Linked DNA regions of Homo sapiens. The gene in region 1 interacts genetically with each later gene. Each region holds a gene or a part of one and is shown in the gene's direction. Other genes may lie near its edges. The genes, in order: AATF, MCM3AP, ATG10 and GFI1B.

What was found.
Region 2: changes in AATF (region 1) and MCM3AP together harm fitness more than expected from each alone (negative genetic interaction), as found in Homo sapiens cells (one large-scale study listed by BioGRID).
Region 3: of AATF (region 1) and ATG10, changing one suppresses a phenotype caused by changing the other (phenotypic suppression), as found in Homo sapiens cells (one large-scale study listed by BioGRID).
Region 4: changes in AATF (region 1) and GFI1B together harm fitness less than expected from each alone (positive genetic interaction), as found in Homo sapiens cells (one large-scale study listed by BioGRID).

The regions. Positions count from the first base shown.
Region 1 is NC_000017.11:37,050,992-37,058,321, forward strand, and holds the end of AATF (protein AATF), read left to right. Parts: intron 1-1,263; exon of another isoform or gene 1,264-2,171; intron 2,172-5,609; coding exon 5,610-5,673; 3' UTR 5,674-5,880; downstream 5,881-7,330. UniProt on the Homo sapiens protein: Part of the small subunit (SSU) processome, first precursor of the small eukaryotic ribosomal subunit.
Region 2 is NC_000021.9:46,244,112-46,251,441, reverse strand, and holds part of MCM3AP (germinal-center associated nuclear protein), read left to right. Parts: exon of another isoform or gene 1-1,856; intron 1,857-4,555; coding exon 4,556-4,814; intron 4,815-5,037; coding exon 5,038-5,135; intron 5,136-6,244; coding exon 6,245-6,635; intron 6,636-7,330.
Region 3 is NC_000005.10:82,050,076-82,057,405, forward strand, and holds part of ATG10 (ubiquitin-like-conjugating enzyme ATG10), read left to right. Parts: intron 1-5,156; exon of another isoform or gene 5,157-5,259; intron 5,260-7,330. UniProt on the Homo sapiens protein: E2-like enzyme involved in autophagy. Acts as an E2-like enzyme that catalyzes the conjugation of ATG12 to ATG5. ATG12 conjugation to ATG5 is required for autophagy. Likely serves as an ATG5-recognition molecule. Not involved in ATG12 conjugation to ATG3.
Region 4 is NC_000009.12:132,987,447-132,994,770, forward strand, and holds the end of GFI1B (zinc finger protein Gfi-1b), read left to right. Parts: intron 1-750; coding exon 751-1,022; intron 1,023-1,614; coding exon 1,615-1,752; intron 1,753-2,229; coding exon of another isoform or gene 2,230-2,295; coding exon 2,296-2,461; intron 2,462-3,291; coding exon of another isoform or gene 3,292-3,311; exon of another isoform or gene 3,312-3,393; intron 3,394-3,425; coding exon 3,426-3,604; 3' UTR 3,605-4,241; downstream 4,242-7,324. UniProt on the Homo sapiens protein: Essential proto-oncogenic transcriptional regulator necessary for development and differentiation of erythroid and megakaryocytic lineages.

The DNA.
Region 1 (7,330 bases):
CTCAAACTCCTGGGCTCAAGTGGTCTTCCCACCTCAACCTCCCAAAGTGCTGGGATTACATGAGCCACCATACCTGGCCTATGAGTCACTTTTCGTCTGGAAAGCAGCAGCATTGTCTCCGCCAGCTCCTTTGGAAGACTGGCACATAATACTTGCTCGGAGACCATGATGCGCTTTGGGAGGCTGCACAGGCTTTTTCGGGGAGCAGTGGAATGGCTGTGTTCTCTCTGCTGTCCACCTGTCTTTGTGGGTAGGTACAGCTCAGGGATGTCTTGGAGGCCTGGGGGTTCCAGGGCCAGTGTAGGAGGAGTGTGGTTTTCTGTAGAGTGGATGGTACAATTCCTTCAGAATCCCCAGTGCTGCAAGCTACTGACCTAGCAAATTGAAAGCCCCACACAGATTATTTGCAGGTTTAATATGCTCCTTTGTACTGTTTGCCCAAGTGACATCGTGAAAGACAGTGATCTGTATTGTGGTGGGGTGAGTGCACATGTGGAACTGAAAGGAACATATTTGGGTCCACACATCGGTGAGGGGCTGCATTCTCATACACATACACCCCCATTTCACTCAGAGCTTTTAAAACCTTACCTGCCACTCAAGTGATTGCAGTTCACAGCTAGCTACAATGTGCATACTTTAAGTCTCTTCAGAAGAATCACATAATAAATAAGCCGAATCCTAAGACAGACAGACAGACAGACAGACACACACACACACACACACACACACACACACGCACATTCTGTCTTTATGGAAAATGGCGGCTAATCCATGATCATTTTTTTTTCTAGAAACAGGTTTTAAGATAATATAGTAAAAATATTAAATTAGAAAATGCCTCACTAAGGGTTATAAAACCTTACTGCACTAGAGATAGGTAATTATCCCCTCTACAGCTTAATGACAGTTTAAAAGAAATAAAAATGTTAGTGCTCATTACTTGCTTTTGTAGTTTGCAATAAAGGGTAAGTTAAATTTTAATTCAAGGAAGAGCCCCTGCTATCGACCTTCTACCTCAGGTCCAAGTCCTGTTAATTACTCCGCAGGCTGCTCCCCTGCATGATACCAGCATGAACGCATTGTCTACAGTGGACACTCCCACTGACCATGAGTGTGTGTGTGCTGGGGGGTGGGGGTATTACAGATCAGTGATTTGCATCTTGATTCTTAATGTGATGGGGAGCAGGAATTATGTGTTTTTTTAAAAAGTTGATTATGCATAGCCTTAAGGGGACCTCAGGTATGAAACTACACACTTACCCTGGAGAATCTGATGGAACAAGGTTAACCTGGAGGATTGATAGTTTAGCTTCTCCACATGGCTAAATCCCAGTTAGGAAGATGCAGCCGGGGGGAAATGTTTATGCAGTGGAAGGCGGTCTGGCCCTCTGTCCAGTGGCACCTTTTTGTAGCCTCGTCTTTACTTGCAGTTTTTCTTGGGATGGGGTAAGGGCTGTGGACATGTTTTGTTTCTTTTCAGATGTCTTTGCCTTTCCCTAAGCACCTAGACACCTGCCTAGGTTTGAGGGAGGAAGAGCTCAGTGCACCCTGTGGCTCAGTCTTCACACTGGGGTATGCAGAGACTTTCCAAGGGGAAGGTAGACACAGATAGTCAAGGAGTCAGTCTTCAGACGTACGCTCTTTCCTAAAGCTGTCTGCCCCAGAGCAGGCCTGTGCTGGAGGGCTAGGTTGTCCTTTTACCCTCGTCCTTCTCTGGCCTTGAAAAGCCTCCCTCGAGCCCCTCCTTAAAGTGACATGGACCTCGGGCTGCCACAGGAAAACCTCCAGGGCCTCAAACCCAAGGACAGCTGGAAATATGGGTACAGAGATTGAGAAAGCAAACGCCTAAGGACTAGAGGACAAGCCCTGTGCAGGCCGGGTGGTTTCTGGGTCTTCACTTCCAGCAGAATCGCTGGAGAACACGAGTTGAATTGAGTTGGCAGTTGGTTGACCGTTAGGACTAATGTTTGGGGACGAGTCACTGTGCGATTTTTTGTGTGTGCTGTATAATTCAGAAAGAGCAAAAAGAATCAAGTGGCATTGCTATGCCAGAACTCTGTCATTCCTATCTGCTTGTTTATATGACAACATTTCTCAGTGCTTATGTCTACAAAAAACAAAAAAATAGGAGTAGAATTGATGCTGAACCCTCCTTCATTCTGGCAATAAATAATATTCCTCCATGGATCCATGAACAAATGGAGGGAAAAGCCTCATCCATATCATTAAGGGATGCATTTCTAATAACATTTTACACATGTATGAATACTAAATTTTCACTAAAATTAGGATATATTATATCATATTATTATATATTGATTATATCCTAATAATAATCCAGAGGAACATTTTTAAACTACTTAGAGCCTTATAATGTCAAACAATTAAAATATTTTCATTTCAATTTTTTGAATTTTAAAAATTTCAAAAGTGCTTTTATTTACAGACTAATGTGGCCAAGAAGTATGATAAGGGTGATTGATAAAAGACATTCAAGCATGAAACCATTATATTAGGACAAAACTCTGTAGGGAAAAGTCAGGTGGAAATAAAATTTAAAAAGAAAAAGGTGCTATAAAATGTCCAAGTTAAAAAGTTTATGTGTGGCCCACGCCTGTAATCCCAGCACTTTGGGAGGCCAAGACGGGCAGATCATGAGGTCAAGAGATGGAGACCATCCTGGCCAACATGGTAAAACCCCGTCTCTACTAAAAATAAAAAATTAGCCGGGCGTGGTGGTGCGCACCTGCAGTCCCAATTACTTGGAAGGCTGAGGCAGGAGAATCGATTGAACCCGGGAGGCGGAGGTTGCAGTGAGCCGAGATTGCGCCACTGCACTCCAGCCTGGCGACAGAGCGAGACTCCATCTCAAAAAAAAATAGTTTATGTGTTACTTGAATGAACGATGAGTATCAAATCATTATGGCATGTAGGTTCCATTGCAGGCATTACAAAAGTTAATTTTCACAACATCCTGGTCATTATATATTTTGTAACTATTTAAACTTACTGTGAAAAACGTTATAAAAATGTGCAACCCTACCTTCTCCAACCTAGTAAAGAGGGAGGAAGGGCTGTGCCTCCCTGTACCACCCAGCTGCTCAGGGCAGGAGCCAAAGCCAGGACCTGGAAAGAGGAAGGGCTGAGGCCAAGCTGAACCGCTGGAATCTACAGTGGGGGTGGCTGGTGGGGGGCGTGTGGGGCGGGGATCTTCATCCCCATGCTGCTCCTGGGCCCCAGGGAGGGTCTGCTTTGTCTGTCTCAGAGAAGGGAGTGGAAGAGTCAGCCAGGAGGTTGTTGCTGTGTGCTTCATGAGAAACGGTGAGATCTGACCTAGTGGAAGCCTGGAGGAGCTGTGAAGTTTGAGATGCTTTGAAGGTAAAAACGGTCACCAGCTGGTGATAGTGGGTGAGGAAGATGTAAAAGTTGAAATTGCTTGGGGACTTTTAGATTGAAATAATCCCCTATTGATATTCTCTCTCTCTGAAAATATTTTAAGAACCCAGACCACTCAGCTTCCCAGGTTGCTTTGCCATGAACAGCTGCATATGTTTGTCAGCTTTGCCCACCTGAGTGTGAAATGATGTTCTATGAAAACATGGGTTTCAGCATTTCACTCTCTGCTCCTGACACGTGAACCCTGCTGCGGACAGTAACTGCTGCCTTCGGCCCAGGCGTTGCACTGATATTGCGCGCAGAGTGGAAGCATTTGCTCAGTGGTAATGATGGGGTCTGGTGCAGGCAAGCGCGGCGAGGCTGGAAAGGGTATGATGTGAAGGGCTAGCCTCGCGCCTCTGCATTTCTTTCTCATCAGACGTTGTTGTCCTAAAGTCACACTGTCCTTTTGTTATGGCAACTCTCCCTTTCACGCCATTTAATTTTTTGTGTGGAAACAGCTAGAGAGACTTGTCTTTACTGGCAAATAGGCAGGCCATGGTGTGATGAAGTGGAGCCTGCCCTGGGCACCGAAGTATCCGTGTGACGGAGCTGCTGATTTGGAAGCCGTGGGTTTGCATTTGGTCTGGGGCTGCCGTCCACCTTGGCAGGCTTCGTCTGGGCTGATTGAGGCTAGTCACATGGATGTGTGTAACAGAAGAGCAGAAGAGATGGGTGGAGCCAAGGGGGAAGCTGTGTCCTTTGTCTGTGGCCTAGGGGTCTGCTGGGTAGTTCAGGGTGAAGGCACCAGCACATTCTTGGGATAAAATTCCTGTAATAAAATTGGAGGCCTGTTGTTTTCTGGCCTGCACTTTCACTGCCTGTCCCTCCCGCGGTCCCCAACATGATAAGGCTAGCTTACATTTGTGGCTTCTGTAGTTCTTCCTTAAGATGTTTTTCTTTTGACTTTTTTAAAGCTTTGATACTCTATTCCTTTTGTTGGATTTCCTAATTGTAGTACCTTTATTCCTATCCATAACTATAGTAGGGTGACTTCAAAAAAAGACCAGTAGTTTTTTGTGTTGAAGCCTTGCTGTTTGAAAGGTGGGGTTTTTTGGTTTTGCTTTTAAAGTCTGATGTGCCGATGCTGACCCTCAGATGATGAGAGCACTTTTAAAACAAGACGGCAGGCTGGAATTTGAGTTCCATCTTGAGAATATCCGAGCAGGTGTAGATTTCTTCTGGGGCTCCTGGCCCATGACCTCAGCCCTGTGTGCGCCTGCCCTGTCTCTGTGAGGGCTACCGGCTGGGCCTTCTGCAGGGCGTGGACATGGATGGCTGCCTCTGCGGCCACGTGCTACACGCCCACCTCCCTGATGACAGGGACGTCCTCACACGGGTCTTGCCTGCTTGGAACCTCATGGGTCCCTCATGTCTCTGCAGGGAGGATCTGCTCTGTATCCACAGGGGAAAGTGTTCTGGAGCTTCTGTCTCAACGATAGGAAAGATCCCTGCCCCACCCACACCCCTTTTAGGTTTTCCAGGCCTTGACACATGGCTTTGGCCGATGTTTGTGTGTATGTTGCATTTAAAAGAGTTTGAAAGTGGTCATTTACTTTTCTTTTTAGGGGCCCAAGACCCTGGCATGTTATTGTTTTAATGTCAAAACCCAACTTTAGAAATAAATTAGCCAATCATATTATTTATTAGACTGAGAATAGAGACAGGGCAGCTGGGGAGTGTGGAAGAAGCTTGGTTCTCTTCCTGAACAACTGCACAGATGATAGTAATTGGAATCGTGTTGCTGGCTCATTTTCATTGTTTTTCAAGTACTGCCAAGTCCAAGAAAATGTATGAAAACTAAATTATATCCCCCTACATCCCATGTCTGATTGAATCCTCCTCATCGGATGGCGGTCTCCTACATCCTATTAAAATATTCAATCTTGTTTTCTTACTTGAAGAGCCTGTCTGCAAAGGGCAAACTTACAGAACACTCATTCCCTGGAGACGGGTGTCCAGCCGCACTGGACCATTTACATATTTTACTGTTTGATTGGGTTTCTTCCTTCTGTTGTATTTGTGAGTAAGAGCTGTGGGGTGCATTTTTAATTACATGGCTGTGTTTTCAACAGAAGAAACAGAATGGGGTATTTTCCAGCTTCTGCGTTCCTTTTTAACCTTGAATAGTGAACCAGTGTGTTAACCAGTTTGCTGTGTTTGTCTTTTAGGACAGAACTGTACCGCTCTCTTTTTGGCCAGCTCCACCCTCCCGACGAAGGCCACGGGGATTGACATCGCCCACCTCCGACACCCAGTGGGCGCCTTGGCTGGTGCGGCTGCTGGTCCAGATGGAGGAAACCAGTGACTTTATGGGGCTGAGCTAGTAGGGAAGCCCCTGGAAAGATGCTGCGTTCCGAACCTGTGCCTAATACACGCAAGGGCGCTGTCCCGCCCAACCCCGCCTTTAAACGCCACAAATAAAGAGCATTGTTACCGCCACCACCGCTTGTGATTTCTTAAGAGGCTGAGAGTCAGTCTGGTTTGGTTCTAGTGGATGACACATTTACTGAGCTTTTTTTTTTCTAGTCCAGTGGCCTCCTCATACAATGTCAGACTTGACGTTTCCTTGACCCACTCACCCTGGCGGACATGTAGATTGTTTGCATAGCGTGGCTGTTGTGGGTGAAATGAACGTGGGAGTGCAGGTGTCCCTTCAACACAGTAATGTCCGTTGATCTGTATATATACCCAGAAATGGGATTGCTTGATCGTAGGATAGTTGAATTTTTAGTTTTTTTAGTAACTCCTTACAGTTTTCCATAATGGCTGTACCAGTCCACGTTCACCCCGGCAGCGTGCCAGAGCTCCCTTTTCCGCGTCTTTACCAACACTTGTTAACTTTCATCTTTTTTAAAAAAAGTTTTTATTGCCATATAATAGTTGTATACATTTTAGGGGTTCATCTTTTTGATAGTAGCCATTATAACAGGTCTGAGGTGATGTCTCATTGTGGTTTTTTTTTTCTTTTATCTTTTTTTTTTTTTTTTTTTTTTTTTGAGACTGAGTCTTGCTCTGTCTCCCGAGCTGCAGTGTAGCGGCACAATCTCGGCTCACTGCAACCTCCACCTCCCAGGTTCAAGCAATTCTCCTGCCTCAGCCTCCTGAGTAGCTGGGATTACAGGTGCTCGCCACCATGCCCAGCTAATTTTTGTATTTTTAGTAGAGACGGGGTTTCACCATATTGGCCAGGCTGGTCTTGAACTGCTGACCTTGTGATCTGCCCACCTCGTACTCCCAAAATGCTGGGAATACAGGCATGAGCCACCACGCCCGGCCTCGTTGTGGTTTTTCTGTGCATTTCCCTAATGATTAGTGGGGCTGATAATTTTTTAATAAGCCTGTTGGCCATTTGTATGTCTTCTTTTGAGAAATATCTGTTCAGATTCTTTGCCCATTTTTGAAATGGGTTATTTGTTTTCTTGCTTTTGGGTTTCTTACATGGATAAGGGGTATTCAGCCTTAGAAAGAAGGAAATTCTGACACTCGCGACAATGTGGTTGAACTGGAAGACATTATGCCGAGTGAAATGACTCAAGCACAGAAGGACAGAGACCCCCTGATCTCAATTATACGTGGAATCTACAAAAGGCCAACTCATGGAACTAAAGAGTAGAATGGTGGTTACCGGAGGCTGAGGGGGGTGGGGGAGCAGGGAATGCGACATGTTGGTCAAAGACTACAGTTTCACGTCAGAGGAAGTATTTGTTTATGTATGTATTTATTTATTTATTTATTTATTTAGAGATGGAGTGCAGTGGCACAATCTTGGCTCACTGCAACCTCCGCCTCCCAGATTCAAGCAGTTCTTCTGACTCAGCCTCCCAAGTAGCTGGGATTACAGGCCCCTGCCAACACGCCCAGCTGATTTTTTTTTTTTTTTTTAGTAGAG
Region 2 (7,330 bases), on another chromosome or scaffold:
TATTCCCTAATGTGGTTTTGAAAGACTGGGAGGCTCAGAAGCAAGTATTATGTCTGTCCGTACATGTCGTTTAAAAAATTTTTTTAAGCCAGTCAAATTGAGTAGTGGGCACCAAGCCCAGCCTGCTTCTTTACTTTTTCTGTTTTAATACTATATATTGGATTTCCTAAATGTAATATGTACACAAAACTTTTAAAAAATGAGGAAATGTAAAAGAAGTATAAAGATGATGATAAGAGCCATCCATGCTCTTGCCATTCTGAGGTAACAGTAACTTCTTGGTGCAAATTCTTCCCTTTTCCTGGGATTACAAAGTCACATTTCATCTACTGGAAATTAGTTTACTGCTGCTGTTACCTTCATTTTCATTTAAGAAAGTAACACTTCCGTGTACTTAAAAAGAAGTCAAATAATGCCACCCACGTGATTTAAAATGAGACATAGTAGCTCCTCCTTCCTCTCTTAACTCCTTTCTTCAGGGCTGCATTTTTCTCCTGTTTCCAGATCACACACTTACACAGCCATTTCTCAGTTTATCCATTTAAATGTTCTCTGCTGACTTCCCATTAATATAAATGTATTAGTTACCTTATTCCTAAATAACTAATTACTCCTAACATAGCAGCTTAAAATAATGTCTGTTATCATGGTATCTGTGGGTCAGGAATCCAGGTGTAGCTTAGCTTGGGTCTTCTGGCTCAAGGTTTCTCATGGGTGGAAATGAAAATGTTGGCTAGGATTGTGGCCTCATCTGAAAGCTTGACTGAAGGGTATCTACTTCCCAGCTCACTCTAGTGAGCTTGTGTCAGGATTCACTTCCTTGCAGGCTGTGGCCAAAGACTTCCTCAGTTCCTGCCACATGGGCCTCTCCCCAGCTGACAGCATGGCAGCTGGCTTTCATCAGAGTGAGCAAGAGGTGAGCCTAGATGGAAGTCTGAGTGTGTTTATAACCTAAACTTAGAAGTGACATCCTGTTGCTTTTGTTGGCTTCTGTCTGTCAGAAGTGAGTGGCTAGGCCCAGCTCACGGGGCAGGAGATCACACGTGGGCATGAACACTAGGTGGAATCAGGGGGGTCCTCTTGGCCACTGCATACCATACTAGGTACAGCGTGGCCTCTTGTGCCATGGTCCTTGCTCGGCCTTCCACGTCTTCCCGGGATAGCTACACTAGCACTTTGTATTACTTCAGTGAGTGGGGTCATATTTTGATGGCTCTGTGACTGCTATTCACCTCAGAACCAGTAGTGTTCTATAACCACAATTATTTTTTTCCTGCAAGAAATAGAGTTGCCTTATTGTCTCACTTAATGTAGTTCTCTTTATCTCTTTAATTTTACTGGGGGGCCGTATATATCTCGGTAGAGTTTTCCAAATGTTCTGTCACTTCACTTGATCCATCCATGTTCCCTCTGTCCTGGAACTCTCATCTGTGGGCTGGTCTCCATCCAGGCAACATGTGCCTTAGTGCCATCATTGTGAGCATATGTGTCCCTGCTCCTCCACTTGGAAGCTCTGTGACCTTGGGCAAGTTCCCTAGCGTCTCTGCCACCTGTGTATGGGTACTGTTACTTATTATCCCTATTTTACTCAGAGACGGTAAAATAAACTGCCCAAGCCTCTGCAGGTGCTGTCTGGTGGAGATGCTCATCTGGCTCTTGAGGATAAAATGAGTGCAAACACAGACTGCACAGGACAGTGCCTGGCACAGGCCAGGTGCTTGCTCAGTGTTGCCATTAGCAGCAGCTGCAGTATTTTTTCTTGGTTCAGCCCCTTGTTGGATGTTATATGTCATGCGAGGGGAATTTTCTGAGTCTTTTCCATTATGAAAATGATTTTATTAACAAAATACCTTAAGCTGGGGGAAAGAAAAAGAAAATGCATTTATTTCATTCTGACATTTGCTTCATAGTTTAGCTACGTTTGTAAAATTATAGGTAGAAAATTATTTTCCTGGCCGCGCATAGTGGCTTATGCCTGTAATCCCAGCACTTTGGGAGGCCGAAGTGAGCGGATTGTTTTGAGTGCAGGAGTTCGAGACCAGCCTGGGCAACGCGGTGAAACCCTGTCTCTATAAAAAATACAAAAATTAGCTGGGCATGGTGGTGTGTGCCTGTAGTTCTAGTAGCTTGGGAAGCTGAGGTGGGAAGATTGCTTGAACCTGGGAGTTCGAGGCTGCAGTGAGCCGTGATCGCACCACTGCACTCCGGTGTTGACAGAGGAAGACCCCGTCTCAAAAGAAAGAAAATTATTTGCCTTCCAGTTTTGCTCCACTGTCACCTAGCATCCATTGTTGCTGTACCATTCCTGTTCCTTTCTGTGTGGCCTGGTTTTCTCTGTGGAAGCCTTTTCTCTCTGTTCATGGCGTCCTAAAAATTCACTTTGTTACACTGGCACTGGACTAGCTTCACTCACTGTGCAGGGCTTAGCAGGTCCTTTCAGGCTAGAGACTCCTATTTCACTTCTGGGACATTTTCATGTCTTTATGACACTCTGTCTTTTTTCTGTTCTCTCTTGAACTTCTATTAGATAGATGTTAGGCCTCATCAATTGATCCTCTGAGTTTCTTATCCTATTTTCTATCCTATTTTCAATCTCATCTCTTCCTACTGTGTTCTGAAAGAGTTCCTTGACTTTATTTTCCAATTGTCCTACTGAATTTTTTATTCCATATATATTACTTATTTCCTCTTTCTTTTTATCATGACTTTTTCATAGCATCTTATTTTTTGGATGCATCATCTTATCTTTCCAAGGAAATTAGGGTTTTTGGGGTCTAAGTTTTCTTTGGTTCACGTATTATCTGGTTCCTCTTTTTTTTTTTTTTCCTCTCTGTTACTCCAGTTTATCTCTTTTATGTTGGAGGCCCTCCTCAGATGCCTTACCCAAGGCTATCTGTCTATATCTGAGTGAGGCCCTAAAAGGCTAGCCAAGAAGTTCTGTGTTTGGGGTGGGGTGGATGGTAGCTAAATGGCAAGCCAGGCTTTTTGGAGGGACTCCCAAATGTCTGGATCTGGATGGCTGTTCCCTAGACTGTTCAGTTTTTCTGGAAAGGACTTGTGCCATCTGCTTTCTGGGGAGCTGCTGGTATTCTCAGGGTAGGGTTGGGAGTGGTTTGGCGCTGAGTCCCTTCCACTGTGCCTGACCATGGCCCTGCATCTGGATCCTCTCAGGACTCCTGTTCAGGGGCCCAGGGGGACTGGTTTTGCATAGAGGTTGCCTGCAGTGGTGGGTGCCGCCAATAGGGTCAGGCTCTGAACTTCACCTTTGGCTCCTGGTGTCTGCAGCGCCTGGGTATACAGGGCTTTTGCAGGCTCAGTCAACCTGACTCCTTACACACCCACATCTGCAGCCTTTAGGTATGGCATCCTCTGCTTCCCTAACCCAGGGATTGGTCACACCTATTTGCTGCTTTCTAGAAATGTATCAGAATCCCTCATCTGCTGCTGGCTTGCCTTCCCTCTTTCTATTATTATGGGCTTATATTTTTGTTTATTTTTGTAGAGATGGGGTCTTGCTATGTTGCCCAGGCTGGTCTTGAATTCCTGGCTCCTGGCCTCAAACAGTTCTCCTGCCTTGGCCTCCCCAAGTGCTGGGATTACAGTCATGAGCCACTGTGCCTAGCTTTAACTTTTTTATACCTGTTTAAGGTTAATTAAAGTTATAGTAATATGGTCAAACACAATTCTAGCTGGAGGCTAAATTACCTGTTGACCTGGCTGTTTCTTGCACTAATTCTGTTGCATTTATTCTCATTTTTGTTTCTATAAATTTAAAATATGAACATGGGTGGGCGCGGTGGCTCACACCTGTAATCCCAGCACTTTGGGAGGCCGAGGCAGGCTGATCACTTGAGGTCAGGAGTTCGAGACCAGCCTGGCCAACATGGTGAAACCCTGTCTCCATTAAAAATACAAAAATTAGCTGGGTGTGGTGGTGGGCACCTGTAATCCCAGCTACTATCCAGGAGGCAGAAATTGCAGGGAGCTGAGATCGTGCCACTGCAATCCAGCCTGGGCGACAGAGTGAGACTCCATCTCAAAAAATAAATAAATAAAAATAAAATAAAATATGAACATGCCTTATATCTGAAGGGCAGATATAGAAATTATTTTTCTAGGGTGATTGTCCTCTGAATATATGAAGAAACAATGTTATTTGACGTTTTCTTTAAAAAGGAAGTCTGAAGCTAGGCATGGTGGCTCCTCGAACCTGTAATCTCAGCTACTCAGGAGGCTGAACCAGGAGGACTGCTCGAGCCCAGCAATTCAAGACCAGCCTGGGCAACATAATAAGACCCCCTTCTCAAAAAAAAAAAAAGGTTGAGGGGAGTCTTTGCTAACAATTGGATTTAGGGAAAGAGGGGCCAGGAATTAAAATAACTACAGGAAGTAAGATAACTACAGGGTATGCCCAGCTGTGCCCTTGGAGGCCTGTCTGGAGTACAGTCAGTATTTAGTGCACGGAGAGCTTTGGCTGCACTTGCTCTGGGGCAGATCAGTCACTGCTGATGCGTCCCATGGTGCATCTCTCCTGATGATCTTGATGCTGTTGCAGGTGGCCCATGGCGCCCTCAGTGATGGTGCCATTGATGCTGTGGAGACACAGAAGGACCTCCTGGGAGCCAGTGGGCTCATGCTGCTGCTTCCCCCCAAAATGAAGAGTGAGGACATGGCAGAGGAGGACGTGTACTGGCTGTCGGCCTTGCTGCAGCTCAAGCAGCTCCTGCAGGCTAAGCCCTTCCAGCCTGCGCTTCCTCTGGTGGTTCTTGTGCCTAGCCCAGGAGGGGACGCCGTTGAGAAGGAAGTAGAAGATGGTTTGTGAAGGAAGTCTCGTTTATGAAGCAGCATTGTTTAATAAATGGGTGGAGGCCCTGGGTCTGAGGATGGTCCAGTAGTGTTGGGGTCAGGAATCACTGAGACAGCAACCCCTGTGGTGACTGTCCACTGCAGGACTGGGTGGGGTCAGCACAGTGAGATATGTTAGCAGGTGTGCTGACAGCAGAATGCAAGTGACCTTCATCTATGTCTGTCTTAAAGGTCTGATGCTACAGGACTTGGTTTCAGCTAAGCTGATTTCAGATTACACTGTTACCGAGATCCCTGATACCATTAATGATCTACAAGGTTCAACTAAGGTAAGGTTTCATCATTTTTAATGGTCTGTCAAGATATTTTGTTTTTTCCCCTTTTGCTGTATCTTGAATTGAGTGTATATTAGCGTTTGCATTGTCTTTTTCTTAAGAGACAGGGTTTTATTGTCACCCAGTATAGTGGCATGATGATAGCTCCCTGCAACCTCAAACTACAGGGCTCATGCAATCTTCCCACTTCAGTCTCCCAAGTATATGGGACTACTGTGGTGTGCCACTGCGCCTGGCAGCAGTTGTATGTTTTATACAGATAACTTTCTAAAAACATAAGCAGAAATCAAAATAAAAGATAAAATTTGCCCACAGTCCTGCTATCTGCAAATTAAATTGTTCATGTAAAATTTTTTAGTGTTTTTGTTTCTATGAATTTAAAATATGAACATGTCTTATATCTGAAGGTCAGATACAGAAGTTATTTTTCTAGGGTAATTGTCCTCTGAATATATGAAGAAATAATGTTATTTGATGTTTCCTTTAAAAAGGAAGTCTGAAGCTGGGCGTGGTGGCTCCTCGCACCTGTAGTCTCTGCTACTCGGAGGCTGAAGCAGGAGGACTGCTTGAGCTCAGGAGTTTGAGACCAGCCTGGCCAACATAGCAAGACCCCCTTCTCAAAAACAAAAAAAATAGGGCAGGGGGAGTCTTTGCTAACAATTTAGAGAAAGAGGTGCCAGGAATTAAAATAACTATAGGAAGTAAGATAACCATAGGGTGTGAAGGCACCTTGGCACATAGTGAAGCTGTTAGTCCTTCCAAAAAGGAGAAGACTCCATTTCTGTGCATGGTGAAGGGGATGTTCAGGGCTGGTTTCCTGAGGGCCTGGGCCTTTCCATGGGGCAACCATGCAGGTCACACTCCTCCTCAGGCCAGGTGGGATCTGGGGGCTCTCTTTAGTGCCCCTACTGGACATGTCTCCAGAGCCCTAGAAGGCTAAACTCAACTGCATAGGACACTTCTGTTCCCCTTCCTACCACAGTTGAGAGCCCAGTACTCTGGTATTACCTGCTGTGGGCAACCTTGGGGGATCAAGCCCTTTCAGAAAGCTGTTTTTGAAAAACAGTGTGAATTGTTCAACCAAGTCTCTTCTTTCTTCTCAGGTTTTGCAAGCAGTGCAGTGGCTGGTTTCCCACTGCCCCCATTCCCTTGACCTCTGCTGCCAGACTCTCATTCAGTACGTCGAAGACGGGATTGGCCATGAGTTTAGTGGCCGCTTTTTCCATGACAGAAGAGAGAGGCGTCTGGGCGGTCTTGCTTCTCAGGAGCCTGGCGCCATCATTGAGCTGTTTAACAGTGTGCTGCAGTTCCTGGCTTCTGTGGTGTCCTCTGAACAGCTGTGTGACCTGTCCTGGCCTGTCACTGAGTTTGCTGAGGCAGGGGGCAGCCGGCTGCTTCCTCACCTGCACTGGAATGCCCCAGAGCACCTGGCCTGGCTGAAGCAGGCTGTGCTCGGGTTCCAGCTTCCGCAGATGGACCTTCCACCCCTGGGGGGTACGTGCTTGACCTGGGGAGGTCTGGTGGGTGGCTGCAGCCAAGTCTCAGGCTTCCTTCTCACTGTAGTAACCGTCTGGCAGGTGTTGGGCACCAGTGTGAGGGCTGCACGTCCACCTCCGTGTGTCTCCATGCTGTGCTCGCCTGCACCTTCCTTTGGTCCTTTGGGTTCATGAGCCAGAACAAGCTGGGTTTTGTGGAGTGGGGGCTGTTAGCCTTTCCTGACCAGCAAGGCAGTCCATGGGAGTTCACTCAGCTTCAGGAGAAAAGTGACAAGTGGTACTGGGAGGAACACCAACCCTGATCCTGTCCTGCCTGCCCACAGGGTCCCTGTTTTCAGAACAGACAAGGGGCAAAGAGCATGGGGACCATGTAGCCCTGTCCCCAAGCCGCAGCCATGGCACTCAGTGCTGATTTAACATTCTTTCTTTGTCAAAGAGGCCTTCTTCTATGGCTCTGGCTGTGCCCCTGTTCCTGGCTGAGGTCTTTGGGCTGTTTTGACACAGATCCGACAGGCCATCTGGCTGGCTCAAGCCCAGTATGGCATGGGGCTGCTCCTTCCTATGCACTCAGAAGGGAATGAGCTGCTTATCTGGCAGAAGTTGTGGCATTAGCACAGACACTCCCCTTTGGGCCTCAGGCGCCCTTCTAAATTGTGGTGTGTGGTCTGTAGTAGGTCTAACTCATGCTCATTA
Region 3 (7,330 bases), on another chromosome or scaffold:
CACATTTATATATGGGTTTATATAAATGGCATTGTTGTTCTATAACTTACTTTTCCACCTAACATATCAGTGACATCTTTCTTTGTAAGCATATACAGAATTACCTTATTATTTATAATAGCTATGTAGTATTCCATTGTATGGATGATTTTAATTTGCTTAATGGAACCCCTATTGATGATGAATAATCCCTTAGTTATTCTCATGGTTACCCCTGTAACTTTAAGTAATATATTTCTCCTTCCTGATTTCTCATCTTTGGACAATAACTATTGATTCCTGCTATAATAGATGAAGAATTTAGTTTATTACTTCTACCTCCCACATTCCTTCCTATTCTTCTTTCTGATTTTTGATTATATTATTATTTTTACATCATCAAGATTCATAATATTTAGATTCTATTCAGTAACTATAATTTAGTCCTCTGTGCTTTGTTTATAGGTTGATTCGAAATTTGAACCTAATAAAAGTATATAATGAGTCTGTTTAAATAAACAGATTCATTGCAGAAGTAAGTAGTATAATAGGGGGTATAATTCTCTGTACTATAATAGATGATATAATCCTTTGAAGGTGGTATAATCCTCTGTCACACTGCTGATTGATAGAGACTATTTCAAGTCAAAATCCTACAAATTCTTGGCTGGGTGTGGTGGCTTACACCTGTAATCCCAACACTTTGGGAAGTTGAGGCAGGAGGATTGTTTGAGGCCAGGAGTTTGAGACCAGCCTAGGCAACATAGCAAGACCCCATCTCTACCAAAAAAAAAAAAAAAAAAAAAAAAAAAAAATCAGCCAGATGTGGCAGTGTAGTCCTAGTTACTTAAGAGACTGAGGCAGGAGGATGGCCTGGGCCCAGGAATTAGAAGCTGCAATGAGCTGTGATCATGCCACTGCTCTCTAACCTGGGTGACAGAGTAAGACCCTATCTGTTAAAAAAACAATTCTACGAACTCTCTTTTAGTTTCATACCATGACCGCATTAAAAAAGCTCTTTTAAACTGTGCACGGGCAGAAAACCACCAATCAAGGATCAAGTGTCACAGTGTTTTTCTGTGGTTTAATTCCCAGCTAGAGAACAAATGTGTTCAGTAGGGATTCACAAATTAGGTCACAGAAATGAAAGCAATAATTGTGGATTATACCATGGAGATGGTGAATCGAGGGGGTGCTAGCCTCTATTGGGCTGAATGCATCCAGAAGGCTTAATTCTTTCCCAGAAGGACAGGCTCAGCTTCCTTAAGTGGAATTTAGTATCTGAGATGTAACTCCAGCCCTTTCCCCCAAGAAGTTCTGAGGTATGGGTGGACTATTTAATTAATGAGGTGTCATGTTTAATAAATCCCAAAATACTGCAGGACCAAGGGAAAATTAAAGACGTGCAAATTTCTTTATCAAAGATGAAATGTATTATCTCCTTATTTTCTTTCATTCTTGAGTTTTTGTCTAAATGAGCCAGAGGCTAGCAGTACTGATGAATCACTTTGACTAGAGCTGGTCACTCTTTATACAAAGTTACCTTTGTATATAACATAACCAGAGGCATCAGAGTTCACCCTGGCCAGGATCCTCTCATGCATCTGGAAGGTGTAACACTATGAGAAATTGAAGTCAGTGTTACTGGGATTGGGTGGATATTTGGGGTATGGGGAGGAGTCGTATTAACACATTCAGCATTGTGTTCTGGAGGATCTTCTACATCCATAACAGTTCCTTGCCTACATTACTTACCTTTAACTTTAAAAAATGGATGGATATTGGTTTAATGTCCGACCTACCTAGTATAAACTTTTCTACTTAGCAGTAGTTTCTAGTTTCTTCTTTTTACCCCAAGGTTAATCAGTTTTGAACAGCTACTGATAGTATTGGTTTGATCTTCTACAGCAGCAAAGAACAGTCACTTGAGATCTGTGGCCTAGGTTTGACCTATTCCTCAGGGCTCCACTGACCTTGAAGGCCTTGTTTGATCAGTGCTGGCATTGACCTAGAAACTTCAGTTGTCTTCCTCCTTTATGGACTTGTCAAGCCCTTCCTGCAGTTGATCATTCTGGGCAGTTAACTTGAGTTGAAGTCGTATATAAAATGCCTTATTCTGAAGTAGAGCTTAGACCCTTAGATAACCACCCATTTTCTTTTAGATGTGTCTAGAGAAGATCTTGTTAAACTCAGCAACAAAAGCCCTATAATTATTTTGTTAGCTGGATTCCAGCAGGCATAACATAGCTTGCTGGGTGGCATAGCCCTATGACAGCTTGTACTAAAACAGACCCAAACGTGTTCTATCAGGAAATCCTTAGATCTCCATCCAAAATGCAATCGGCACTACACTAGAAAACTTGCTTGTCTCTCTTGGATTCTATAAGACCTATAGGACATTTTCTCCTTAGAAGTTTAAGATTGGAATCTACTCTGGCAATGTGGTGGCCTGGAGGCATATGTGCAAAGGGCAATTAATTATTTGTTTAAAATGAAGTGCCATGTATTTATAGGCACAAAAGAGGTTTTACATTAAAAAGTTAAGTCTCCTTTCTAACCCTTCTACTTTCCTTACTCAAACCTTTAGAGGTTGCCAGTGATACCATGGTCTTGGGTATCTTTCCGGATATATTCAGTGTACACATAGCCTGTACAGTTACATTTAAACATATGGTAGCATGCATATATTCATACTGTTCTGCGCTTTAAAAAATAACTTAATGGTCAGCCTTGGTCATTACTCAATATTTACAGAACTCATTCATTATTTTTGTGGTTACATACTATCCCATTATTTGGACATAAAATAATTTATTTAGCCAATCTTCACTGATGGAAATTTAGGTTGTTTCCAACCTTATACTATTAAAATAATATGTTAATAATCATTTGTATGAATTTTATTTACTACATATGTGACTATATCCATAAGGTAAATTATTAGAAGTAACATTTCTGGATCCAAGGTGTGTGCATTTTAAATTTTGATAGTTTTTGCCAACCTGCTCTTCAGGGATCTTATGCTAATTTTAACTCCCCTGCCCCAGCAATGTATGAGAGTGCCTGCTTGTTTTATCCATGTCTTTGTCTATACATTCCCTTTCATACTTTTTGATCTTTGCCAATCTGATAGGTAAAAAATGTTATCACAGTTTTTAATTTGCATTTTTCTTATGGCTAACATTGAACATATTTTTATCTACATGTATTTCCTCTTTAGTAAACTATCTGTGTATCCTTTGCTCATTTTCTTATTGGGCTATTGGACCCCTTCCTGTTGATTTGGTGGAACTATTTATATTTTGAGGAAATTAAAGCTATTTTATATTGAAAAAATTAGTTCTTTTCTATGATATGAGCTACAAATGCTTTTTCACATTTTGATATGTCTTTTGACTTTATGGTGTTAAGAATTCGTTGCATGCCGTAGAATTTACCAGTCTTTTATGACTTCTGGGTTTTTATCATATTAAAAAATATGTGTTCTCCTATATTTTCATCTAGCATATTTGGGGTTTTTTTCTCATTTAAATATTTCTTATTTTGGTCTTAGGTGAAGGGCATTCTATTTAGATAACTGGAAGAGTTTTGGCTGTGAGGAAGTATTCTCTTTATAATGAAAGTTGTTTGGGTTATAACAGCTGGACATTTCTTATTAATTATTCTTCTACAGTGACAGAGTGAAGCATCATGCTTTGTGGTGAATGGACAGCAAGGAGACCTAATAGCTGAAGTGTAGTTGGACTTGGAGCAATTTTAAGTTACAAGACTACTGGCAGTTTCAGAGGGCCAGGTCAAGACTGGCCAAGTTGCCAGAAATTAGTTTTTCGGGCAGTAGTAAAGACCACTTCAAAGGCAGTCTCAGCATGGTCAAAGCTCCAAGAAGAGAGCATTAACAGAGGTGATTTTAGCATTTGGAGAACTCCAGATGAGCTATGGTGTTCATGAAGATCTTGAGTTGTTTGTGGACTTCTCTCCTGAGGTAGCTGCAGATTACCTGATTGACTCTGTTCATTGAGTTCAAAAGAGGGTCTCCAAGGAATTGAGTGCAGTGGTTCTCAACTCTGGCTGCTGTGCTGGAATCTGCTAGGTAGATTCTGACTTAATTGGTCTGAGGTGAGACACCAGCAACAGTTTGAAAACTCCACAGGTGGTTCTAATGTGCAGCTTGGATTGAGAACCATTGTTAATGTAGTCAGTTTGCTGTCTCTTTGAGTCAGGGATTGCAGTACATGCCTCAGTGCTTCCAAAATGTGCATACATATCACCTGGGGATTATGTTTTAAATGCAGAATCAGGAGGTCTGGGGTGAGGCTTGAGATTCTGCCTGTCTGTCTTAATGAGCTCGCAGCTTATGCTGTGGCTGGTCCCCAGACCACACTTGAGTGGCTTGAGTTTGTTACTTGAAGTGCAAAGCACTGGCCCACACCAGTCCACGAGAGTCAATAAGCCATGGTCCTGCTCTCTTGCAGAATTTGCTTAGTGTACTACAAAGAATACTCAGGTCAAGAGATCCGCTTTCCACTTCCTGCTCTGCCTCCAACTAATTAGTGTAAGACAAGTTTCTTAGAAGTGCTTTAGTCCTTCACCCTCTTATCTCTAAAATGAGAGGCTTGAATTGGATAAACTTGAAGGTTCCCTTTGTTTTTAAATCCTCTCATGCTTGTCCAGGATGTTTTCAGACTCTTTCTGGATCAGGTTGTTATGTGGGATGGAATCTGGATCCTGTAAAGACCTTGTCATCCCTTAGAGGATGGAGGCCTAGGCCCTGAGCTTATGATCTAGTGGGAGAAATAAAACTAACAAATGTTAAAAAATTAAAGAAGAGTTAAATGTTCAAGTGTAAGCTATGATAAGTACAAAAAGAATGCAGGGAAGCTAGAGAGGAGTGTTAATTGGAATGGTCAGGAAAACTTCATTGCCAAGGGGGAATTTGAGTTGACATCGTTTTTTCCTGGGCTGGGTGGACTGCAGGGCTGACAAGAGTGGTGGTTCTCCTGCTTTTGAGTTTGCTTGTCTCTAAAAAAGCATCCTTCAACAGTGAAGCACAAAACATATTTTTCTGCCTTAAATTAAAACAAAGTAGAAGAAACATCTAGTTCTGTGGAAGTCTTTAAAGGGAAATCAAAATCCAAAAAACTCTATATTTAATTTTTCAAGGCTAATCTTGACTGAGAAGATTGATACTGAAAAAAAATCACCACTACCAAATATAGAGCAAAAAACCCAGCGTACTTCCGTATCGATAATAAAAAAATGGTATTAGAAATTACCTAAAATGTAAGTAAATTCCTCAAATTATAAGTATTATTGAAAGTGACATATCTCTTTATCTTAACTAATTGGGAAAGAGACCAGATAATTTATTTAGATTTTATAACATAGGTGCACACGAATTTTTGACTCACCTCTTTTAATGTCAAAGGAGATGTATTTTGCATTGTTATTAGAATTTTACTAAATTTTATGTTCCCTTAAGAGGAGGTTATGTGACCAGGGCTCAGGTATTGAAAAATACAAAATAGAGCAGTTACCCTCATTTAATGAGCTATATTTAGTACACACAGTGCAGCTCCGTGTTCTCTGAATATCCTGAGAGTTTTGGTTTTTATCTCTATGGCTAGATCATTTTGAAATTGCAGACTTTGGGTAATTTTTCTCTCAAACACATGCTATTATAGTTTTACCGTATAGTCATGCTGCATAATGACATTTCGGTCAAGAACAGACCACATGTACAGTGTTCCCATGAGATTATAATACTGTATTTTTGCTGTACATTTTCTTTGTTTAGATATGCTTAGATACACAAATACTTACAAATTTTACACAAATTTTGTTACAATTGCCTGCAATTAATACAGTAACATGCTGTACAGGTTTGCAGCCTAGGAGCAAGCAACTATGTCTATAGCCTACGTATGTAGGAGGCCATACCATTTGGGTTTGTGTAAGCACAGTCTATGATGTTTGTACAATGACAGAATAGCCCAATGACGTGTTTCTCAGAAGGTATTCCTGCCGTTAAGTGATGCATGACTGTATATGGTAAATCTTTTATATAATCAACTATTGATTATCTATCTCAAGATTGACAATACAATAGAAATCTTCTATTTTTAAACTAATAAACACAAATTTATGTTACTTAATAGCAAAATTATTTTGGTTGCAAGTGACAGAAAACCCAACCCATTGGGTGAAGCAAAGAAGGGACTTTTTGGGGCCATGTAATTGAAAAATCTGAGATAGAACTAGTTTCAGATATGGTTGGTGTAAATAATGTAGTCAGAATGTGGTTTCTCTGTATCTCATGGTCTTGCTTTCCTCTGAGTTGCAGAGCCAACTTCGTTTAATTACATGATGGCTGCCAGGTTTTTTTTTTTTTTTTTTTTGTGGTCTGTCTGGCTCAAACCTAGTGGAGAAGAGAACAGCCACCTTTCCCAACCCCCCAAAACCAAATCCTGAATTTCATCCCATTGGCTGTGATGTAGATCATTTGTCCTCCAGAGTCTCTGGGGCCGGCAGTACTGATGGGCAGGATCAGAGATCTGTGTCTATCCCTGGAGCTGTAATCATTTGTCCTCCAGAGTCTCTGGGGCCGGCAGTACTGATGGGCAGGATCAGAGATCTGTGTCTATCCCTGGAGCTGTAATTAGTGTAACAGTAGCCAATGCTCCTCTAAGGAACCATTCCCTTCTCAATCAGGAGAATTGAGGAGCAATTGTTCCTTAGAGGAGCAATGACTACTGCTCCAAAAGAAGGAAGAATGGATGTTTGATGTGAAACAGTGGCAATGACAACAGTCATTACATATATCTTTCTCAGTTTAAGCCAATGTTAAATTTACATTTTTCTAAATACGAAGGTTTCAATGGTAGAAGACCATTACAGGATCTGCTTTGTGGTCAGATAGTGTAGAGCTGGAATTTAAAACAGTAATTCCATCTACAAAATGGATATCCTTAATGAAATAATTAAAAATGACAGTATTGGATATCTGATGGCCTACTTTCCAGGCAGGAATGATATTAAAAATATTTAGCAACCTGTGACAGAGGCATCAACCAATCAGAATGAGTTGGATCTAACCAATCAACAACTAACCAGTGCAGCCCCCTGAGTGAGAGCTGGCTGTTTGTCAGCACAACTTACTGGGAGGCATTCTTAAGGTGCTGTCAAGTGTCTTAAAAAATAGAGTTACTGTATTAGTTTCCTAGGAATGTTATAACAAGGAACCACAAACTGGGTGACTTAAAGTAACAGAAATTTATTCTCTCACAGTTCTGGAGGTTAGAAGTCTGAAATCAAGATGTTGGCAGGGTCCTGCTCCCACCAGAGGCTTTAGGGA
Region 4 (7,324 bases), on another chromosome or scaffold:
CCCAGGGAGTGCCAAGGGGAGGAAGGATGAAGGGACTCTTGCAGCAGGGCCCCTTGGGGCCCTGGAGTCAGGAAGGACCCACGAAGTCACTGGATGCAGCCCGGGCTCTGTGGCTTCTGCTTGGGCCTCTCAGACAGGGAGCTAATTCCCGGATGTGGGCTAGGTGGGAGAAGAGGCCAGAAGCAGCAGCTGGGCCGGTCCGTGCAGGGAGTGAGGTGGGCACTGTGGAGTGAGGCTGGGGGTGTCTCTGGGCTGGAAAAGCTGAGGAGCCACAGTGAGGACCCAGACATTCCTGGCAGTAAGTATCTGGGTTGACACCCTGAAACCCTCCACATGAGGTGATGAAGGTAGTGGTGTGTGGTAGAGGGTGGTGGGAAGGGGGTGCCCTGTGTTTATTTTATTTCATTTTATTTTTTGAGACAGTGTCTCACTCTGTTGCCCAGGCTGGAGTGCAGTGGCACGATCTCAACTCACTGCAACCTCTGCCTCCCAGGTTCAAGCAATTCTCCTGCCTCAGCCTCCCTAGTAGCTGGGATTATAGGCGTGAGCCACCACGCCTGGCTAATTTTTGTATTTTTTGGTAGAGACAGAGTTTCACCACGTTGGTCCGCCTGGTCTTGAACTCCCGACCTCAAGTGACCCACTTGCCTCAGCCTCCCAAAGTGCTGGAATTGCAGGCATGAGCCACGCCACTGTGCCCAACCCCCTGTGTTTAAATGAGTAACCAGGCCTGTGTCGTTATCTCCACAGAGGGCCCCATTGTGCTGTCCCGACCCCAGGATGGGGACTCTCCACTGTCCGACTCACCCCCATTCTACAAGCCTAGCTTCTCCTGGGACACCTTGGCCACAACCTATGGCCACAGCTACCGGCAGGCCCCCTCCACCATGCAGTCAGCCTTCCTGGAGCACTCCGTCAGCCTGTACGGCAGTCCTCTTGTGCCCAGCACTGAGCCCGCCTTGGACTTCAGCCTCCGCTACTCCCCAGGCATGGATGCGTACCACTGTGTGAAGTGCAACAAGGTGGGCAGCGGGGGGTGTGGTGGGCACCTGGGCCCTCCTCTCCGCACTCCCTCTCAACTCACTGGCAGCTCTGGGCGTTCTCTGTGCTGTGAATGTTGGGGCTCTGGTGGGATTAAGGATTCAAAACGTTCATCCTCATCACCATTCATTGAGCTCTGACCACGTGCCTGGCCCTGTGCTAAGCAATTGACAGGCATGAGTGCCAGAGTCAGATGAAAGGTTAAGGTTCAGAGAGGTTAAGTCACTTTTCCAGGATCAGACAGCAAGTAGATATCAGAACCAGCATTCAAACCCAGCTTCGGCCAACTCCCAGCTCTTAACCACTGGGCTATTCAGCCTCTAGATGAGGCAAGGAGGGGCCTCCAGATCCCCTCTCTCACATCCAACTTTGTAGAAGGGAGACTGAGCCACAGAGAGGCAAACGGACCTCCCTGGGACACACAGCAAGCAAGCAGCAGAACTGGCAATCCAGTGCCCCTTACTCTGTGTACCCAGCCTTGGCCAGAGCTGGGCATGGAAGAGACCATGGGACCCCAGGCCTGTCCCTGTCACCGCAGCCCCCAGTGGCCTCACATGCTGCCCCTGCTCCCAGGTCTTCTCCACCCCTCACGGGCTCGAAGTGCATGTGCGACGCTCCCATAGTGGGACCCGGCCCTTCGCCTGTGACATCTGCGGCAAAACCTTCGGCCACGCTGTGAGCCTGGAGCAGCACACGCACGTCCACTCCCAGGTGGGCACCTGGCCCAGCGCAGGACTCCCAGCCCCACTCCTTCTCTGTGCTTCCCCAGGGAGCCTGGGGGCTGTGGCTGGGTCCCTCCCCCTGCCCCTGGGGGTGACACAGATTGGGAGGGGTCCCCTAGTACCCACCTCCCTGGGTCTGGGTCTCCAACACCTGCCCTTAACAAACTTCAGACTCTTAACTAAACCACCGTGCAGACCACAACCATCCCTGCCTCAAGGAACTCACTCTAGGTTAATGGTCATGAAATGTGAACCCCTAAAGAACCTCTGAGATCAGTCAGTCCATCAGTCAATCAACGAACATTTATTGAGGTTTATTTTGAGCGGGATACCGTGAAGATTACAAGGAAAAATCCCACAGGAGACCAATGAGACTCCAAGCCCCAGTTTCACCTCAGAGGCAGAGATGAGGGGTCCCCCGGTCCTGCTCCTCCAGGCCGCCCCAATGGAGTGTCCTGTTCCGCAGGGGATCCCGGCCGGGTCCAGTCCTGAGCCTGCACCTGACCCCCCGGGGCCTCATTTCCTCCGGCAGGAGCGCAGCTTCGAGTGCCGCATGTGCGGCAAGGCCTTCAAGCGCTCGTCCACGCTGTCCACCCACCTGCTCATCCACTCAGACACGCGGCCCTACCCCTGCCAGTTCTGCGGCAAGCGTTTCCACCAGAAGTCCGACATGAAGAAGCACACCTACATCCACACAGGTGAGTGAGTCTCACCTGCCTGTGCCCCCTGGGCAGAGCACCCCCACCTTTCCCTGAGAGATGCATCAGAGGCCCCCAGCGTGAGGCTGGGGGCGGGGTCTAGTTACAAAGTCAAAGGCCACTGCTGATGGAGGGCTGGGCACCTGTGCTACTTAAGTGCACTTAATGCATGGAAAAAAATACAGGGAGGAAACAGCAAAATCTCAACACTGTTGATCTCATGGCAGACATGAGACTAGCAGGCGAACTGCTCATTCATTTGTTCACTCATTCACTCACTCACTTGCTCATTCATTTGTTCACTCATTTGCTCATTTATTCACACATTCGCTCACTCATTTGCTCATTCATTTGTTCACTCATTCATTCATTTGCTCATTCATTTGTTCACTCATTCATTTGCTCATTCATTTGTTCAGTCATTCATTCATTTGTTCACTCATTTGCTCATTCATTTGTTCACTCATTCATTCATTTGTTCACTCATTTGCTCATTCATTTGTTCACTCATTCATTCATTTGTTGATTCATTTGTTCACTCATTCACTCATTTGCTCATTTATTCACACATTCGCTCACTCATTTGCTCATTCATTTGTTCACTCATTCATTTGCTTATTCATTCCTTCACTCATTCATTCACTTGCTTATTCATTGCCTCCTTGCTATTAGCTGAGTGCCTCTTTTGTGCCAGGTATACCAGGCTTGGAGATGTATTGATAAACAAGATGACTCGGCAGCTGCCCCTAACCACCCTATAATCCAGTAGGGGTGGAGGAGGGTCCAAGTTGTATCTTTGCTTCTCTCTCTTTTCTAATTATTTTCTAAAGTGAATGTGAGTTGGCCATGAGAGAAAACACAGGAAGGTATTGGAAAATGAACCCGGGGGCAGGGCAGGGGAGCAGCAGGCCTGGTGAGGAGGCCCTGACCCCGCCCTTGCTGTGCTGCGCTGCCCTCCCTGCAGGTGAGAAGCCGCACAAGTGCCAGGTGTGCGGAAAGGCCTTCAGCCAGAGCTCCAACCTCATCACCCACAGCCGCAAGCACACAGGCTTCAAGCCCTTCAGCTGTGAGCTGTGCACCAAAGGCTTCCAGCGCAAGGTGGACCTGCGGCGGCACCGCGAGAGCCAGCACAATCTCAAGTGAGGCTGCGCCGGCTCCCAGCTCCTGGCCAGCCTGCCCTGCGGTCCTGTCACCTGGAGGCCAGCCTCACATGCCCAAATCTCCAGTCTCCTGGAGGTGGGACTGGACAGGAGTCTACCAGCTTGTTTTGAGACTCATGAAATTGCTGTGTGACCTTGGGCAAGTCACTTACCCTGTCTGGATCAACATTTCTCCTGCTGCCAAGTGTGGGAGCCTGGCTGGGTCTTTCTCAGCAGAAGTTGTTTCCAGGTGTGCTCAAGTGCCTTCCTCTAGCAGAGCACAGAAAGCTAGAATACCCCCAGGGAGACAGGGATGCCAAGAGTAGACCAGAGCTGGGACCCACAGACAGAACCTCCACCTGCCTGCTGCCCACTGAGCTGGGACCTGGTCACCTTGGATTTTAGCCGGCCTCTTTCTGGCTATAACAGGCAGAGTCGGAGCTGCCTCCCACCCCAGTCAGAAGCCTGGCACCCCCTCTGCTTCGGCCAGATGTGCTGGCTGACTCCGACTTCCGACCAGCACTCAGCTGGCCTCTGGGGATTCTAGCTCCACAACCAGGCCGTGAGGCTGGAGAAACTGGCAGTTATTGCTGTCAAAAGCCTGTTCTCTCAACTGCTGTCAATAAAATTAAAGATACAGATTTGCTGCCATGTGACCAGCATTTATTAAGTGCCTATGAGGTCCAGGGTACTGCACGAGGCTTTGGGGAGTGATGCGGGGAGGCTTGAGGAGCAGAGAAAGCCATGGAGGTGCTCATAGGCAAGTTGTGGAGAAGTGTACTCAGCCCCCACGTGCACAGACCCGCTGACGAGCCAGGAGCAAGCAGAAGGGGCCCGTGCGACAAGACCACAGGGGTGGGCAAGGCTAGTGCAGCTGGGGCGGTATCCGTTTCCTGTGGCTGCTGTGACAAATGACCACAAACTTAGTGGCTTAAAACAACACACATTTATTCTCTTAAATTCTAGAGGCCAGAAACTCAAAATGAGTCTCATGGGGCTAACATCAAGGTGTTAGCAGGACTGCATTCCTGCAGCAGGCTCCCAGGAGAGTCTGTTTTCCTGTCTCTCACCTTCCCAAGGCCGTCTGTGCCTCTGATCTTGGCCCCTTCCTCTGCCTTCAAAGCACATAACTTGGATCTCTGCTTCTGCCTCCATCTCTGTCTTCTGCTTTCAACCTTCTTGCCTCTCTCTTATAAAGACCCTTCTGATTACACTGAGCTCAGGTATAAATCATCCCATCTCAAGATCCTGAACGTAATCACCGTGATTGGCTGAATAATGGCCCCAAAGATGATATCCACATCCTAACCCTGGAACCTATGAGTGTGACGCTATAGGGTAAAAGGGACTTTGCAGGTGTGATGAAGCTGAGCCTGGTGCCACACCTGTCTAGCTGTGTGACTTCAGGTGAGTTCCTGAACCTCTCTGGGGCTCAGCTTCCTCCTCTGTAAAATGGTAAACACAGCAGTCCCTTCCACCGATTCGCTGAGACCATTCTTACAAAGTGGCATACAGGTCCAGCCCAGCACGTAGTAAGTGCTGCCGAGTTGTGAACATTCCTTTTTGAAGTCCTGTCCATCCTACAAGGCCCACTTAGCCATCTCCTCCATGAAGCCTCCCTGGGTCATCCAGCCAGAAGGTCTTCTCTCTCCTCTGATACCGAGCAACTCAGTCTCTTTGCTTACAGCTTAGGAGCCATTGAATGTGGAATGCAGTTATGTGTGGATAACTTCAGGAGGTCTTCTGTCTGAGCTCCAGCCGCACCCCACCCCCCATCCCACACCAATCCTGTGCCTGGCCCACAGCCATGGACACCTCTGAATGAACTTGCAGGTACTGAGCTAAGCCAAGGGTTTCCATACATTGTCTCTAACCCACACAACCTTCTGCAATGGAATGCCATTCTCCCATTTTACAGATGGGGCAACTGAGGCCCAGAGAGGTCAAACATAAAAAAAAAACACAGATATGGGCCAGGCGCTCACGCCTGTAATCCCAGCACTTTAGGAGGCTGAGGCGGGCAGATCACTTGAGGTCAGGAGTTCGAGACCAGCCTGGCCAACATGGTGAAACCCTGTCTCTATTAAACATACAAAAATTAGCTGGGCATGGTGGCGCGTGCCTGTAAACCCAGCTACTTGGGAAGCTGAGGCAGGAGAACTGCTTGAACCTGGGAGGTGGAAGTTGCAGTGAGCCGAGATGTTGTCGTTGCACTCCAGCTCTGGGCAACAGAGCAAGACTCCATCTCGGAAACAAACAAACAAACAAACATAGATACTAGGGCTTACCCTTTCCAGGTGTGCTCAGGTGCCTTCCTCTAGCAGAGCACAGAAAGCTGGAATACCCCCAGGGAGACAGGGATGCCAAGAGTAGACCAGAGCTGGGACCCACAGAGAGACCCTCTTTCCTAGAGAAAGAAGGATTCTTTCCAAAGAAACGCCACTATCGTCCGATGGTTTCTGTCGGTTCATGAACTGACTTGTTTAACGTGTATTTGATTGCATGCCAACTTATGAGGCTCAACCTGTCATGAAATGGCAAATGTCCCATGCAAACGCCCAATTCGCATCCATTGTGGGCAGCTCAAACCTGGGTCAAACTAGAAGCTGTTCAATGGATCATCAGGGGAGTGAGTGACAAGTCCTCAGACTCATGTTCGTGGTTCCAGAGAGGCCCACAGAGCCGGCTGGACATGCCTCAGACCCGTTCTGGTGCTCCCCAGGCGTGCGCCACAAGCCTCCGGGGGTTCGTTTGCTTTAGACGGAGTAGAGATCACATTGCTCAAATAACTGGGAGGAACTCTGGGTTAACGTTCAGTCTATTGCAACTGCTTCTTAGAGCCTATAACGTGTGATACGCATGTGTCCATCCCCAAGGGGAGGATTTGGGTGTTCAGTGTTTTCCTAAGGTTAATTTGGGAACCAGAGAGGGAGAGGGAGAGGTTGGCCTACTTGCCCAAAGTCACACAGCAGGTAAAGGCAGGACTGGGATCAGAAACTGATTCCGAGTTGAGGCTATCTTTTTGGAGTCTGTGTACTCTCCCTCCCACTGAAACCCAAAAGTGTTTCTTCCAGGTCTCTTCTCTGGTGTGCAAGGGGCTTGGGCCCCCAAGAGGAATGGAACTCTCACCCACCCCCAGGCTCTGCATTTGGCTAGGCAGAATCCTGACATCCATTTCCTGCCAGAAGCTCTTCCTGTTTCCTTTAGCCAGAATTCCTCTAAGCAAACCTGTCAGGTGTGCGGGGTGGGCTCGGGGCTCGGGATTTGCATGGGAGGGTGGTCCCGTCTCCTCAGCAAGCTCCCTGTCGGTGTCCTGTCTTGAAATCCAGCTCTTGGAATCAGGAGAAGAGGGACCCTGGTGGCCAGAGCACCAGAGCCAGCAAAGCCTTAGAAACCACCTGTTCCCACCTCTCCTCCTGTCCAGGAGGACAGAGAAGCCCAGAGAGGGGAAGGGCCTTGCCCACAGCCACACTTCTGGGGCCAGGCCTGGAATGGGCTCCTGACTCATCTCTTACACACACATGCACACATGCACACACACGGATTGGGAGCTGCTTTGCATACTCCCTGTTTGCTAAACAAAACCAAACCAGTATCGGGATTTCAGCCACTTCTGCAGCAGGGCGGGGCAAGGCGGAGGAGCTGAGCTGTGAGGGGAAGCCAGACAATGTTCCTTCTTTGTCGACTGAGGTTTGGCGAGATCGAGATTAAGCTTGTCGGGCTC